Regions from separate parts of the Homo sapiens genome. Here region 1 is linked to region 2. Evidence: fine-mapped QTL for protein levels in blood plasma. A gene starts in region 2. The other region holds a variant in brackets. All regions are shown on one strand. Distances are between the middles of the regions.

Region 1 (8,323 bases), 23 kb before region 2:
GTCTTGCTCTGTTGCCCAGGCTGGAGTGCAATGGCACGATCTCGGCTCACTGTAACCTCTGCCTCCTGAGTTCAAGCGATTCTACGTCAGCCTCCCAAGTAGCTGAGACTACAGGCGCTTGCCACCATGCCCGGCTAATTTTTGTATTTTTAATAGAGACAGGTTTCACCATGTTGTCCAGGCTGGTCTCAAACTCGAGCTCAAGCAATCCACCCGTTGTGGCCTACCAACGTGTTGGGATTACAGGCATGAGCCACCGCGCATGGCCAATTGGAAGGTTTTAACTCTGACAAAGAGAAGAAAGAGAGAGGCAGTCAGCAGGAACTGTATTTCTCCACGTCTAGCTTGCTTGATCTCAACGACCTTTTTTTTTTTTTTTTAATAATACAGACCATAGTCACAAGAGTGATGTATTTTCAATCTCTCATTTTCAGGAAGAGGAAACTCTTACAAGCAGAATGTATTATATGTAAGTGTAAGCTTCACACAGCCAAAAGTGTATCTGGACAACACTCTATACATAAGCAGTGTTGAAAACACCCTGCAATGTAACTAACGGATAGGCTTGAGTGCCCTGAGCCTTCCTTGGGTTGTTTGGGTTACAGCTAAACTAGCCTCTGCCTACGCCCTTTTACAAAGCAAAGATTCCTTTTACAATGCAAACAACCATTCCCTAGCTTTTCTGTCTTAAAGATCAAAAGTCTGCACAATTTGGCCAGGCGCGGTGGCTCACGCCTGTAATCCCAGCAATTTGGGAGGCCGAGGCGGGAGGATCACCTGAGGTCAGGAGTTCATGACCAGCCTCAACATGGAGAAACCCCGTCTCTACTATAAAAATACAAAATTAGCCGGGCATGGTGGTGCATGCCTGTAATCCCAGCTACTCGGGAGGCTGAGGCAGGAGAATTGCTTGAACCTGGAAGGCGGAGGTTGCGGTGAGCCAAGATCGCGCCATTGCACTCCAGCCTGGGCAACGAGAGCGAAACTCCGTCTCAAAAAAAAAAAAAAAGAAAAAACACCAAAAGTCTGCACATTTTATTTTCTGAAAGTAAGAAAGACATATAAAAACAATTCACAGCTGGGTGCGGTTGCTGGTGCCTGTAATCCCATCACTTTGGGAGGCCAAGGCGGGCAGATCACCTGAGTCAGGAGTTTGAGACCAGCCTGCCCAACAAGGTGAAACCCCGTCTCTCCTAAAACTACAAAAATTAGCCCGGTATAGTGACACGCGCCTGTAGTCCCAGCTACTGGGGAGGCTGACGCAGGAGAATAGCTTGAACTCGGGAGGCAGAGGTTGCAGTGAGCCGAGATTGCACCACTGCACTACAGCCTGGGGAACAGAGTGAGACTCCGTCTCAAAAAACAAAACAAAACAAAAAAAACACATTCATTCAATCTAGCAAATATGCCTTGTCCGTTTCACTACCCCTAACATCACTGCTGCTACCACCACCACCACCATCACCACTCCAGAGACTCACAACCCCTTCTACTTCCAGGGTTGGAATAGGCTCTGGCCAACTCCATTTCCACCGCCACCACCACCACTACCCTTGAGAATGGGCTCAACTCCAGGGGGATACAAAATCCCTTCCCCATCCCCTTAGATCCATTATTCATTCATCCCATATTTATTTATTTATTTATTTATTTATTTATTTATTTTTGAGATGGAGTCTCGCCCTGTCACCTACTCTCGCTACTATGTGTTAGGCACTCTTCTATTAATAGGTGCTGAGGATACAGTAATTGAACTCAGCAGACAGAGTTCCTAGTCTCATTAAGCTTACCTTCTAGTGGGAGGAAACAAGAAATAAATGAATAGATGAGGCTGGGCATGGCAGCTCACACCTGCAATCCCAGCACTTTGGGAGGCTGAAGCACAAGGATCACTTGAGCCCAAGAGTTTGAGACCAGCCTGGGCAACATGGTGAGACCCCATCTCTACAAAAAAAAATTATTTAAAAACTTATGAAAAAATGATGAGCCAGGTGCAGTGTCTCATGCCTATAATCCCAGCACTTTGGCAGGAGGATTGCTTGAGCTCAGGAGTTTGAGACCAGCCTGGTCAACATAGCGAGACCTCATCTCGACTAAAAAATTTTAAAAATTAGCCAAGTGTGGTGCTGTGCACCTGTGGTTCCAGCTTACTCAGGAGGCTGAGGCAGGAGGATCACTTGAGCCCAGGAGGGCAAGGTTGCAGTGAGCCGTGATTGCACCACTGCACTCCAGCCTGGGTGACAGACCGAGACACTGTCTCAAAAAAAAACAAAACAAAAAAAAGAATAAGCTGGGCATGGTGGCTCATGCCTGTAATCCCAGCACTTTGGGAGGCCAAAGCTGGTGGATTGCAAGGTCAGGAGTTCAAGACGAGCCTGGCCAACATGGTGAAACCCCATCTCTACTAAAAATACGAAAATTAGCCGGGTGTGTGTAATCCCAGCTACTCAGCAGGCTGAGGCAGGATAATTGCTTGAACCCTGGAGGCGGAGGTTGCAGTGAGCTGAGATCCTGCCACTGCACTCCAGCCTGGGTGACAAAGCAAGGCTCCATCTCGGGAAAAAAAAAAAAGAATAGATGAGAAGATAGTTGATGATAAGTGCTATGATGACAATTAGAACCCAGGATCGATAGGAAGTGACTGGGGTAGAAACCTAGGTATGGCTGTCAAGAAAGGTCCCTATAAGGAAGTGCTATGTACATGCAGACCTGAATGACAAGGAGTCAGCCATGCAAAGAATCTGGGTAAAGAGCATTTCAGAGGGAACAGCTAATGCAAAAGCCCTAAGGCAATAGCAAGCTCACGGTGCTTAAGAAACAGAAAGTCAGTGAGGCTGAAGCCCATGTGTTGAAGGAAGAAAGTATAAGATGAGGTCAGAAAGGGAGGCATGCCCTAGCTAGTGGAGAAGCTCTTAGGCCAGGGAAAGGAGTTTGGATTTCATTGAAAGTGTAATGAGAAGCCTTTGGAAGGTGTTAAGCTCAGAAGTGGCACGATCTGATTTATGGTTTTAAAGGATCATGGTAGCTGCTGAGTGGAGAATAAATTGTGGGATCAAGGGATGCAAGGGAAACCACTTAGAAAGCTATTATAGTGGTCCAGGTGGAAACAGTGGCTTGGACAAGGATGGTGATAGAGGGCGGGGCTGCTGAGAAGTGGAAGGACTCAGGAAATGTTTTGGAGTTGGAGTACCCTAATGACCTGCCTTGGCTCTCTCTGCATGGTTTATGCATATCAAATAATTATCAACAATCGACAAATATTTATTGAGTTCCTACCACGTCCCAGGCGCTGTGCTACGCACTGGAAGTTACAGCCCAGAGGAGAAGGCCCACTCCACCTCCTTCTGCCCTACTGCCATAGGAGCTCTAGTTTGAGGAAGCTACTGCCCATCCCAACCTCACCCCATTTGCAGGGCGAGAGGCACACCCATTACCCCACCCTACCCACCCCTGCACTCTATTCCAATGCCGATCTGGAACTGATGGGGTGGGGGCAGTATTTACAGTTGGAGAATTGATGCCATAAAAAGAAGAGTCCAAAGTCCTCTTAAAGGTCTCAGAGCAAAGACCAGGAGAGCCCAAAGCTTCCAGAGTGGAGAGGGAGTACAGCTAGGGCCATGAGGATGAGGCAACTCTTGGTGCCCACACCACTGCTAGTCCTTCTCTGGGTTTCCAGAGCCCAGACTTCCTCAGTCTTCACTATCCCATTCCGCCAGCACCTATTCCCTCGTCCCCACCTTAGTAAATGTCTGGGTCTTGTATGCCCTCTGGTGGCACAATCATGGTACTGCAGCCCATAGTTAGTTCCCAACTTTTCGCTACTCAATCTATAGTCTTCTCTGGCTCACGGCTCCTAGGGGCAGTATGGGAAATTCTGGAAATCAGGGAAGGGCTGGAACACTGGTCTCTGGGTGTTGGAGGGATGAGCGCACCCTCCATCTAGTTTTATACGCAATGCCAGATTCGTCTTTTATGAGTTGAATTAACCATGTTTGAGCACCTACTGTGAACTGATCCCAGTCACCAACCCGCTGACCCAAGCTCAGATGACTGGCCACTCCTACCAAAAGCTTAGAGTCTGGAGCTGGGGGGTGTGAAGAAGCAAGAGCGGTTTAGAATTCATTCTGCTTTCAGCAGCAGTGTCAGAAGCCCGAACTTGACCCTCCTATCATTCCTGCTGCCTAATTTCTCTTTGTTCCTGCCTGTTTTTTACGCCTTATACTCTTGCCTTTCTATCAGTTCTGTGAGCAAGTTATTCACTATCCTTCCAACAAATGTCATTTCTGCTCCCATTAGTTGGAGTCTGTTTCTGTTTTTACAATCAAGATGACTGGTATGTGTTGGGCAATTCATCAAGCCTTTCTGGGCCTTAGTTTCCCCCTTAGTAAAAAAGGGAGGATAGCAATGACTTCCATGCACAAGGCCATTTTTATTAAACAAGTGTATTAGTTCTCTATTGCTGCGTAACAAATTACCACACATTTAGCAGCCTAAAGCAACACACGTTTACTGTTTCATAGTTTCTGCCTATCAGGAGACTGAGCATAGCTCAGTGGGGTCCTCTACTTCAAGGTCTCACAAAGCTACAAGCAAGATGTTAGCTGAGGCTTCAGTCTCATCTATGGTTGGAATAAGGAAGGATCCAATTCCAAGCTCATGTGGTCGTTGATAGGATTCAGTTCCATATGGGCTGGGCTGCTGGACTGAGGGCCTCAGGCACCTTTCCCTTAGGCCTCTGCCACATGGCAGCATGTCTTCATCCAAGCCAGCAAGAAGAGATTCCGCTAGCAAACAGAAGTCAATGGTCTCTTATAGCCTCATTATAGAAGTGCCGTCCATCACCTTCTGATGGATCAGAAGTAAGTCTCTAGGCCAGCCCACAGTCAAGGGGAGGGGATTACTCAAGGGCATGAATACCAAGACGTGGGGATCATTTGTGGCCATCTCAGGTTTGCCTG[T/C]CACAATGTGGTAGCTGTTAGTCATCTTTCAAGGACTCCTCAAAATGCCACTTCCTTCTTGAGGGCTTTTTAAATTCTTCCCCCACCCAAACCCATCAAAGTTAACCCCTCTTACAAATGATGAAACTTGAAAGTGTGCTGGATATTAGATGGAATTATGTTTAATTGTGTTAGGGAAGGGTAATGTTATTTTTTTATTTTTTTATTTTTTTTTGAGACGGAGTCTCGCACTGTCACCCAGCTGAAGTTCAGTGGCAGGATCTCAGGTTCGCTGCAACCTCCATCTCCCGGGTTCAAGTGATTCTCCTGCCTCGGCCTCCTGAGTAGCTGGGATTACAGGCGCGTGCCACCAAGACCGGCTAATTTTTGTATTTTTAGTAGAGACAGGGTTTCACCATGTTGGTCAGGCTGTTCTTGAATTCCTGACCGCATGATCCGCCCGCCTGGGCCTCCCAAAGTGCTGGGATTACAGGCGTGAGCCACCGTGCCCGGCCGGGTAATGTTATTTTGACACTAAGAAATTCCCCCTAATTTTAACATTTATTTATTTATTTAAATTGACAAATAAAAATTATATATATGTACGTAAATTGTGTACAACATGTTTTGAAATATGTATACATTGTGAAATGGTTAAATCAAGCTAATTAACATATGCATCACTTCACATGCTTATCTTTTTTTTTTGGTGGTGAGAACACCTAAAATCTACTCTTTTAGCAATTTCAAGTATAAGATGCATTGCTATTAACTCTATTCACCACGTTGTGCAATAGATGTCTTGAACTTATTCCTCTCATCTAACAGATTTTGTATCCTTTGGCCAACTTCATTTCGGCCCAATCCTCCCACTCCCCAGCCTCCGGTAACTGCCATTCTACTTTTTCTACAAGTTCAACTTTCTAAGATTCCACGTATAAATGAGATCATGGCCAGGTGCAATAGCTCATGCCTGTAATCCCAGCACTTTGGGAGGCTAAGGCGGGCGGATCATGAGGTCAGGAGTTCGAGACCAGCCTGGCCAACACAGTGAAACCCCGTCTCTACTAAAAATACAAAAATTAGCCGGGTGTGGTGGCATGCACCTGTAGTACCAGCTGCTTGGGAGGCTGAGGCAGGAGAATCATTTGAACCCAGGAGGTGGAGGTTGCAGTGAGCCAAGACCACACCATTGCACTCCAGCCTAGGTGACAGAGAGATTCCGTCTCAAAAAAAAAAAGAGATCACATGGCATTTGTCTTTCTGTGCTGGGCTCATTTCACTTAGCATAATATCCTCCAGGTTCATCCATATTGCCATAAATTGCAAAATTTCATTCTTTTTTATGGCTGAATATTATTACATAATATATATACTGTATACTGCATTTTCTTTATCCATTTTTCTGTTGATGGACACTCAGGGTGATTCCATATCTTGGCTATTGTGTGTGTTGTTTTTTGTTTTTTTTGTTTTTTTTTTCTGAGACGGAGTCTCGCTCTGTCGCCCAGGCTGGAGTGCAGTGGCACAACCTTGGCTCACTGCAACCTCTGCCTCCTGGGTTCAAGCAATTCTCCTGCCTCAGGCTCGTGAGTAGCTAGGCGCTCGCCACCACGCCAGGCTAATTTTTGTATTTTTAGTAGAGACGAGGTTTCACCATATTGGTCAAGCTGGTCTTGAACTCCTGGCCTTGTGATCTGCCTGTCTTGGCCTCCCAAAGTGTTGGGATTACAGGCATGAGCCACTGCGCCTGGCCTTTTTTTTTTTTTTTTTTTTTTTTTTTTTTTTTTTTTAATAAGGACAGATCTTGCTTTGTTGCCCAGGCTGGAGGGCAGTGGCTATTCACAGGCATGATCATAGTGCCCTGCAGCTTCCAACTCCTGGACTCAAGCAATCCTCCTGCCTCAGCTTTCCAGAGTAGCTGGGACTATAGATGTGAGCCACTGTGCCCAGTTACTATATCTTGGCTATTGTGAATAAAGCTGCAATAAATATGGGAGTGCAGATATCTCTTCAACATACTGGTTTTATTTCTTCAGATATATACCCAATAGTGGGATTGCCAGATCATATGGTGGTTGAAATATGTTCTTTCTGAGTGATACTACTGAAGTATTTCTTGGTGGACTATCATGATGCCCACACTTTTCTTTAAGATATTTTACTCAAAAAAGAAAAAAAAAAAAAAAAGGCCAGGCATGGTGGCTCACACCTGTAATCCCAGCACTTTGGGAGGCCAAGGTGGGTGGATGGCTTGAGGGCAGGAGTTCAAGACCAGCCTGGCCAACATGTCGAAACTCCGTCTCTACTAAAAATACAAAAATTAGCTGGGTGTGGTGGTACACACCTGTAACCCCAGCTACTCAGGAGGCTGAGGCACGAGAATCGCTTGAACCCAGGAGACGGAAGATGTAGTGAGCCGAGATCACGCCACTGCACTCCAGACTGGGCAACAGCGCAAGACTCCACCTCAAAAGAAAAAAAAAAGATATTTTAGAGTAGTAAGGAGAGGGTCATAGGGACATCCTCCCTTTTACTCCCAGTCTCCTTGGCTAAATAGTTGCCATGGAAAAAGTAGATTTTGCTCTTTCCAGAAGTGGTCCAGGAAGCCAGCTCTGTATATGTGTGTAAGAGGTGAGAGAGACTGAAAAGATTAACAATATCAAACTTTCTCATCTCACAAGCCTCAAAGGGCCTGTATGTGAGTGCAGATAACTGAAATCGGTTATCTCCCTGATCCTTGCCGGCATATCACACAAATGTTTGGGAGTAACACTGGGGACAAGGGTCGTCTCCCCCCCACCCCGCCCCCACACTGGAAGTTTTATTTCTTTAGGATTCTATCCCAACCACTCGCTTAAAAATCAAGTAACACAGACCTGAGGGGTAGGAGCTGGGGACTGCACCTCCCTGCTACTCATGGAGGACAGCAGTGCGAACGAGGGAGGGGCAGGAGAGGCGGCTGAAGCAAGGCAGCAGCAGAGGTAACGGGGCCACGACCTCAGAGAACCAGCTCCGTCCTCTCCCAGACCCTGGCTGGAGCCCCTATGGCTTGGGGTGGGGAGTGGGAGTACCCACCCCAGGCCCTCCCCTTCCTTCCTCAGACAGCCTCCTTGAGGGCTCAAGCCATTTCTTCTGGCAGGAGACTGAGGCACACGGAGAGGAGGAAGTGGAAGAGGAGGATGCAGGAGAGGCAGGGTGGTGGCTTGAATGAAGGCAGAGGTGACAGGCGTGGGCAAGGCCACTCCATCCCACCCACCCTGGAGAGGGGCAAGGAAGCCACACCATCAGGCAGCATGTCGGGTATGGGGGAACAAGGCAGGGTTTAAGGCTGAGCAGCCCAGGGCAGGCAGGGCAGCCCAGGGCAGGCAGGACCTCGGGCCTCA
Region 2 (8,323 bases):
CCTTGACGCTTGGGCGGGCGAGCAGAGCACCAGCACTCTTGCTTTTCGGTCCTTTCCCCCGCCGAGGTCGGGGTCGCAGCCGCCGCCGGAGGATGGGCGGCCGGCGCACGGAGCAGGGCCGGGAGGGAGCAGAAGCTTCCGCCAAGAGCTCAGGAGCTGGGGCAGCCCTGGAGCTCTTCCTGCCCTTCTGCCCGCGGCGGCGGAAACTCCAGAGTCCCTACTCTTTCTCGGGAGGACTTTAGGGAAGAAGCAGAGCGGCAGGGGAAGCCGAGGAGCGAGGGTGCGACGTGGGGATGGAAGGACAGTGGGAGGCACACGGAAAAACAGAACGAGGACCTTAGACAGGAGAGACGGAAGTGGAGAGAGGCTGGGCTGAAAGGCAGGGAGAGCCAGAGACTGACAGAGGCGGCGAGAAAGGAAGGGAGAGGGAGGGAGGGAGGAGGGAGGAGAAAGAGGGAGGGAACCAGGGGAGAGGGAAGGGAGCAGGCGGCGGAGCCCGGCGGGCGTGGGGCGAGGCCAGGCGTGCAGGCGGGAGCAGCGTGCAGAGCAGCGGCCGGGTTTTGCTCCCGCCTCGGAGCCCCTGGCCCGGGGGAGGGGGAGAGGCCGCTAGCCTGGTCTATGTCTTTTTCTGACTCCAGTGCAACCTTCCTGCTGAACGAGGTAACCGTGGGGGGGGTGTGGGGTCGTGGGAAGGGGGTTCCCCACTGGGTGGGAGGAGAGCTCCGCTCCAAGCTAGGAAGGGGGCACGCGTTTGGGGGAGACTGCACCGATGGGGAGGCAGGGAAACCGGAGGAAGTGAGGCCAGGGGTGGAAGAGGCACCGGGTTAGAGAGGAGGGAGCGGCCAGAGCTGGCAGCTTCCTAGTACTGGGATTGGATGAGAGGAGAGGACTGACTGAGGAGCCAGAAAAAAAGGGGCTAGATTACAAGAAGGGCTCTGCCAAGCTCCCCTAGCGCCTGTCCCTGAGTTCCCTGGCAGCCTAGCAGCCAGAATGGTAGGGGCCTCCACCTGGTCCAGATCTTAAAAACTGCTGGGGAGGAGTCTTTAAGTCTTCCCAGAAGGCCTAGCTTCTGTCTCAGTTTCCCCATTCAGTGCCCAGGGACTGGGATCTGCCCAGCTTCCTGGTACACTTAGAGGAGAAGCTAGAATATATTCTGAAACCTCCCAAGAAGGTTTCAATATATTCCAGCTCCCAAACCTGATTATTCAGGCTTTTCCTCTTATGTCTTGCTTCTATGACTTGGGTACCTGCCAGCTGCCAGTCTAACAACTCTCTCCTAGAAAGAATCAGCAGGAGGAGCCTCTCCCCTGATCCTTTATTGCCCTCAGCTCTCTCCCTTTATGCCCAGCCATGAAAAAGAAAAGAGGTTAGGGCTACATGGACACTGACAGGCACATGTCCTGTCACAGGACAAGAAGTCACCAAGTTGGTATTAGAACTAGAGTAGGCAGGTGTGGGTGAGAAATGAAAGGAACATTGGGTAGCAACCCAGAGATATGAGAAGAAGGAGGGAAGCTCTGAAGCTACTGCAGGACCCAGGGGATGGGCCCAGGTATGAGGAGCTTGAACCCATCTCCTGGGGATGGTTGGCATGGCAACACATGCCTCAGGAGCAGACTTAGACAACCTTGTCGCAGGAGATTACAAGGAGTGTGAGGAAGGAGTGCTGCCGATGGCAGATCCGCTGTTACCTACAGCCCCAGGACCTTCTGTGGGTGGAGAGAGTCCCAAAAGGAGAGGCCAGGAGAGTGGATGCAGGGATGGGAAGAGAAACAGCTGCCTCCACCACTGCTTTCTTCACTAGAGCCATCTCCCAGGAGAAGAGCACCTTGAGGGTCTTACTCTTTGACACCTCTCCAGGCCCCTGAAAGAAGGAATTGAAGAGAAAGGATGAAAGAGGGGGATACAAGGAATACTGCGTAACTGGGTGAGGGCACAAAAGTGGGCAGTGTCTGGGAACTTCCAATACAGAAGAATCCAGTATATGACCAAACCCCAGTTGGTGCTGGACTCAGGAGAGGAGACAGTCCCTTCAGCCACAGGGGCTGCAACAAAGTTGTTTGTCAAACCCAGCATGAGGAAGGTGCTGGGCAGGGCTGCTCTGGGCCACCCACAGTAGACAGACTAAAGATGTCAGTCTGAAGATGCAGCTCTTCTTTGTCTTGCCAAGATAACACCGATAAGTGACCCAGGTGGGAAGCCACTTGGTTTGGGTGGGCTTTCTCTCTCCCATGCACAGTGCTTTCTACCATAGATCTTACTAAGCCATGTCAGAGTTTTGGATTTCTGATTCTCCTCAAGCCAAGGAGGGATGAGCAGATTGCTGAACTCCCGGGTGTGAGAAATTGGGAAGGAAAAGGACTGAGCTCAGGGCCAAGAGCATGGGCACCAGGAGGCCTCCAAGTGTAACCCCTGTCTACGCACATCCTCCTCGTGGGGCACAAAGGTAGGCAGTCAAAAATCAAAGAAGGAATTTTGCTCAGGAGATGAAAAAAGGAAAGAGCTCAAATGGGTGGATCTTTGGGGAAAGTTTCCTCAAGATAAGGGCTGCGGCTCTCTTACCCCAAATCTCAATGCTCCTGTAAAGGAGACTGAGTGGTGCAGAGTGGTACAAGCCCTTCTGCTAAGGGGAGAATCTGGCCTTACCCTAGTGACTCCGAGGAGACTGGCCCTTTCCTCTCCCAACCCGAGTGTAGCCAGGATCCCACCCACAACTATCCCCCTACCTCCACCCTCTGGCTTCTTTCCCCTTCCCTTTAGGCTCACCTAAAACAGCCCCTTTCTGCCCCAGTTCCCACGGATGCCTTGGCACTGTCTGGCACAATCCTTGGCAGGGAAGTGGGGAAGGGAACCCCCATCCTGGCAGGACTAAGACAAAATCTATCCGTGCAACAGGTGTGGGGAGGCCTACCCAGCTCACGGAAAGTTCCCCCCTTCTCAAGGGTTGGGCAACACCGCCTTTGCCGCAGCGTCCCCGTACTGAGGGGGCCGGGCACCTGTTGGGGCAGGAGCTGCCGTCCTGTCATTAGCCTGGGGGCACCAAGCCCATTCCTCCCCGGGACCACTGCGGGGTTTGCTTTCGGAGCCTCCGGGACGCACGGGCCCAGACCCGCCCTGCTGTCGCCTGGGACCCCTCCCCCGTCTGCCGCTCGTTCCCGCGCCTCTTCTGTCTCCCACGGTCTCCCCATTTTCCTGTCCTCTCCGTCCTCCCTCTGCCTCTCTCTCTCCGGTTTCCTCGACACCTGCGCCCTCTCCAGTCTCCGCCCGGGTCGCGTCTCCCTCGCGGTCTCAGCGCCCCCTCCCTCCCCCGCCGCAGCCCTTTGTTTCCCGGCGGAGTAGTTCCTGGGTTGCCGAGCGTCTCTGTCTCCGCATCTCTCCTCGCCCCGCCTCCTCCCTGCCTGGATCCGCCCTGCCCGCAGCCTCTCCTCCCCTTCCTCCCCGCCGCCACGGCCCCGTAGGTGCTCGGGGACCCACCTTCCACCTAGCACGGGTTCGTTCCCCTCTCCCGGCCTGGCCCGGGCTCCCCGGTGGCCGCCGCCCCCTCGCCGCCCCCGCCTTCTCCCGGGGAGGGGGTCAGGTGGGCGGGCACTATTGTTGTAGGAGCCGGCGCCAGATTCCTCAGCCGCGCTCGGGGTGGGACCGGCTGGGTTTGGGGGGGTGGGGTGGGGGGAGCGGTGATCTGAGCTCCGAGCAGCTGGTCTTCGCGGCTCGCTCCCTCCTTCGCGCTCTCTCGCTCCCTGCCGCCGCCCGCAGGGCTGCGGGGCTCGGTGGCATCTCCCGGGCGCGGCCCGCAGTCCTTGCCCCTGCCTCCGGGCCGCTCCCGCCCCCGGCGCCGCTCGCTCCCCCGACCCGGACTCCCCCATGTATGACGACTCCTACGTGCCCGGGTTTGAGGACTCGGAGGCGGTGAGTGCCCACGATGAGGGTGGGGGCGGGGAAGTTGGGGTGACACCTCCTCTCCCTTCAACCCTTTCCCCGGTTCAGGACTTTGAAAAACGCCTCAGTGGCAGGGCAGGGTTTGTAGGGGGGCGCTCTAAGAACGTGGGGAGATGGATTTTCATGCCAAGCGTTCCCCAGCGACCCAGACTCAGACCCTGGGGCATCGGGTGTGTGCAGAGAGGGGGCAGTATAGGGGAAGGGCTCAAGCAGGTGGCTCCACGGCCCAGGAAAGAGGGGTGGGAGAAGGCAGGGCTGGAGGCCGAGGGCACAGAGGCTCTGGAGAGGGAACACGCCATGTCTGGAGTTCCAAATTCTGGATTTCTGGGGTCTGAACACAACAGCTAGGAGAGCCGCCGAGGTGGTTGGGGAGGCAGACATTCTAGACCTCTTGTGCCTCAAGCAAACGACACATCAGGGAGCTGAGAGGACATCAGGGAGCCAGGGGCCAACCTCTTCAGACAGACGGATCCTAAAACTTGAGGAGCTCCATTATTCCCTTCCACCCCCTCCATCTCTGCGCATTGCCTCATCTCCTCACCCTTTCTCTAGCCCAGTTTCTCTCCCAGGCTGAAACCTGGGCGCCCAGCACATGGGTAGGCCAGGTGACTGAGCCCCATCTATTCCACAGCCCCCTGCTGAGGCTTCCTCTGCAGCGGGCATCCTGAGCTCTTGCCCAGCATGGAGGGCCTGGAGGTGAGGCCAGAGGAGCTGAGGGCCTGGGGATGGAGAGGAAGCGCTTTGCTCAGAGAAACAGGCAACCGATAAATATTTAATTCTCCTCTTTGCTTTTATCTCCTGACCCACTGAGACAAATCAGCTCATTAAGCAGTGATTCCCGGAGCTCAGACAGCAGGGAGAGTGCCTGGAAAGATGGGGCAAGAATGCGGAGCAGCTTCTCAGCCCCTTGGAGCTGACAACTTTCCCTCAAATGTCCTGTAAGAAGGCCTCCTTAGGAGTGGACCACTAGATGGCTTGGAAGGGGCCCCAATAGGTTGGAGCACCCCTGGGTCGGAAAGAGGAGTTCATGTTCAAGTCTTCTCCCATCACTTACTGCCAGGCCCAGGATAGATGAATGCTGATGTTCAGAATAGGCAACTGTCCTTTTCTGGGACTGGTCTCCTTCTGGGCCCAATTCTCCATGGGGCCTCTGGGGCTAATTACATTGCCGCTAGATCAGATCATTTTCAAGGCTCTGGTGGACACCTCTTTCTGACAGTTGAAGGGACAGCTGGTATAGCCCAGGGTGCCAAGGTGAGCTTGAAAACAAACCTCTCTGTGGGGCTGGATGGCCCTAGGAGGTTCTTCCCATCCCTGGTGAGAAGGCAAGGGCTATTGCAAGGAGCAGACTGACATGTGGATGGTGTTGGAGGGCAGCCTGCTGACCCATTGCTCCCTCCCATCTCTCTCTGGCTCTGATCACCCTCCCCCACTTCCCTTTCTCTTGCCTGGCTCCTTGCTCTCCCTGAGGCCCCCTCTGAAGCAGTAGGAGGGAGATCAGGCTCTAAATAAATCCAACGGCTCATCTCCCTCCTCTCCTTCCCCCGTGCCAGGCAAGAGAGGAGCTGCAGCCTGCCCACACACTCACTAGGCAAGGGGGGCACCACCAGGGCACTGTGCCAACTCCTGGCAGCTCCAAAGTACTGAAACTCTGGCTATTTTGGCGTAGCAGGGTACAGGAAAGGTAAGACCCTAGATCATGCTTGGCAGGGCAGCCCTGGCCTCCCCAAGTAATACTGGAGCACTAGAGATGAGTGAGCCTGGAGGACTTGGGAGTAATGGAGAGGGGGTTCCATTCTGAGCACAACTCATTAAATATTTAGGAAGAGATCCTGTGATTCCCATCCCAGGGTGAGAGGTCAGGTAAGCCAGATGCCTCAGGCGTTATGATTACTAAATTAGGCCGCCAGCGGTGCCTCACACCTGTAATCCCAGCACTTTGGGTGGCCGAGGTAGATCACTTGAGGTCAGGAGTTGGAGACCAGCCTGGCCAATATGGTGAAACCCTGTGTCTACTAAAAATATAAAAATTAGCCCAGCATGGTGGCACATGCCTGTAGTCCCAACTACTCAGGAGGCTGGGGCAGTAGAATTGCTTGAACCCGGGAGGCAGAGGTTGCAGTGAGCCGACATCGCACCATTACATTCCAGCCTGGGCATCACAGTGAAACTCCATCTCAAAAAAAAAAAAAAAATTACTAAATTAAACCAGGCATAGAGACTCATGCCTATAATCCCAATGCTTTGGGAGGCTAAGGTAGGAAGATGGCTTAAGCCCAGGAGTTTGAGACCAGCCTAGGCAACATAGCAAGATCCTGTCTCTACAAAAAACTAGTAGGCATGGTAGCGCATGCCTGTAGTCGTAGCTACTCAGGAGACAGGAGGATCGCTTGAGCCCAGGAGTTCAAGCCTGCAGTGAGCTACGATTGTGCCACTACACTCCAGCCTGGGTGACAGAGCAAGACCTGTCTCTAAGTAAATAAATAAAATAATAAAAATAAAGATTACTAAATTGGGCTGAGAGCCTGGAGCACAGGCAGAAAAGGTCAGACTCCTCTTTTAGCACAGTTCTGGGCCTCTGGGAGGTACCCAATGTATCTGTACCAAAGCGAGTGGTCATCTGCCTTGCCTCCTGCCTCCCAGTCTGTTGGCCCCTGTCTGGTTGCTTCAGACACCAACATCCCACAGAGGTTTCTCTTGTGTCCTAAGACCCCTGGGAAGGAGGTCCCTCACCCTGTGCAAAGATTATTTCTGGGGTTCATCCCCCACTTATCCTGCTGCCATCCAGCCTCATTTTGTTCTCAGGAGAGATGAGGAACAGTCGGCGGACTACTCTTCTGTAAAATGAAAGATCTTTCCCCCTTGTGCTATCTTCAGGCCTTTGGTCTACTATAGACACTGTCTTTAGCCTAAGGCTCGAGAGCCTGGGCTGACCCCTAGCTGAACAGCCCTCTTGCCCACGGCAGGGTAGGGGTAGAGGGCATGGTTGACAGCAGGTATGTGATTTTGCCTTCTTCTCTGAGAGTCTGGCCTCTGCTGCCTTCCGTAGGTGGTCATGCCCAGTGAGCTTGAGAGAATGTTCCTCTACCTGAGGACATTCTAAAGCCCCTTCCCCTATACACACACACACTCCTGCATGAACCCCTTATCTAGGCTTATCCCTTCTCTCTGCCACTGGCATCTCAGAATTGTGGGAAGTATCACTTGAGGCTTCTCCCCACAGAGAGGGAAAACTGAGGCAGGAAACGAAAGACTCCCTTTCCCTGACAGAGGAGGAAACCCAGACATTGTAACCTCTGGGCTCTTGTCTCAAAGTCCAGCGTCCCTTACTCATTTGTGCCTCTCCCTCATGGTCTTGAGGCTGAACTCTGTGACCGTCAAATGCACCCTCATTGCCCAAGACCTTTCCTATGGGCAGGACTCAGAGACTCTCCTTGCTCATGTTACCCCCTCCCCACATCCCCGGGGTCCTGCTCCGTAGCTAGGTTGCCTGGCACTAGCATAGCCTTCTTCTAGGGCTGATGTCCCCTGGGCCTGGGAAAGGACTAGGGAGATGTAGGCCAAGTGGTAGGTGTGGCCCAGCCTCACCTGCACCCAGGGAGACAGCTTTGTGTTCTTGGTCTGTGTCTTGTTTGCTGCCCACACCTGGCTAGTTGCCCCAGCAGGTGTGGAAGGAAGAAAAGTAGGGGGTGGGGAGAGCAAAGGGGAGGTAACTTCTAGGAGCTGGCAGCTTTGTGTCCTCCTCTTCACCCTGGAAGGGTAAGGGCTCACCATTTGGGAGCCTTCAGAGCCTTGTTGGAGTAGGGAAAGTGGAATCTTAGGGGGCAGATGGCTGGATCCCCACATTCAGGACTGGTGCTGTGCCAACCAGCATCTCTTGACTGTTGCGGCTGGCTGGACTCCTGACAGGCATCTTAAAGGGATGATGTCCAGGCTGCTTTGCAGGCTGCTATGAACAAGAGGGCTGGGTCTCCTGGATCCAGAATCATCTCTAATACATCATCTTCAGCACACCTCCCTTCCCTCGGCTCAGAGGACATGTTAGAGGGGAGAAAAGGGAGGAAAGAGAGAAGTGAAGGCTCTATTCAAAGCTGCAGTATTAATAGGCTTGGGGGAGGAGGGGCCCAGATCTTTGCACCTATGGATTGGGCCAGCTTTCCTGTAGCCTCAGAGGCACTGGGGCCCTTCTCAGGGGATAGGAGGGGCCATAGGGACCCAGCTATCCCCTTGGAGATGGAGAAACTGGGGGCAATAGAGGCAACACTGTAAGGTGAGGAGGGTGCCTCCATGGCATCCTTCATGCCGGAGCCTGGGAGTCACAGCCTCTTTCCCAACCCAGGGTTCAGCCGACTCCTACACCAGCCGCCCATCTCTGGACTCAGACGTC

Which allele goes with the higher level. Alleles are on the strand shown, and positions count from the first base shown. The strength of an association depends on the size of the effect and on how common the allele is.
In carriers of allele C in region 1, the plasma level of the protein whose gene starts at base 3,428 in region 2 tends to be higher than with T alone (moderate association).

What was found. PIP is the posterior inclusion probability: the model's chance that the variant is causal. Protein levels are from antibody-based Olink assays in UK Biobank. Linkage for the fine-mapping came from a reference panel and not from the study's own genotypes, which makes the PIPs less certain.
Region 1: its variant is fine-mapped to the plasma level of the CACNB3 protein (UK Biobank, PIP above 0.99).

The regions. Positions count from the first base shown.
Region 1 is chr12:48,792,251-48,800,573 of GRCh38, forward strand. It overlaps the pseudogene ADISSPP1. Among named protein-coding and RNA genes, the nearest start is that of ADCY6-DT, 7.3 kb to the left of the region's middle. RefSeq lists a silencer at 3,616-3,910. The variant T/C (reference allele first, on the strand shown) is at 4,959.
Region 2 is chr12:48,815,069-48,823,391 of GRCh38, forward strand. It overlaps CACNB3 (calcium voltage-gated channel auxiliary subunit beta 3), which reads left to right and starts at 3,428. Exons shown (of 13, transcript NM_000725.4): 1 at 3,428-3,906; 2 at 8,276-8,323. The coding sequence starts at 3,862. LOC101927241 (a long non-coding RNA gene) reads right to left here and starts at 1,864. Exons shown (of 3, transcript XR_245978.4): 1 at 1,692-1,864. RefSeq lists an enhancer at 1-489 and silencers at 440-519, 3,226-3,695.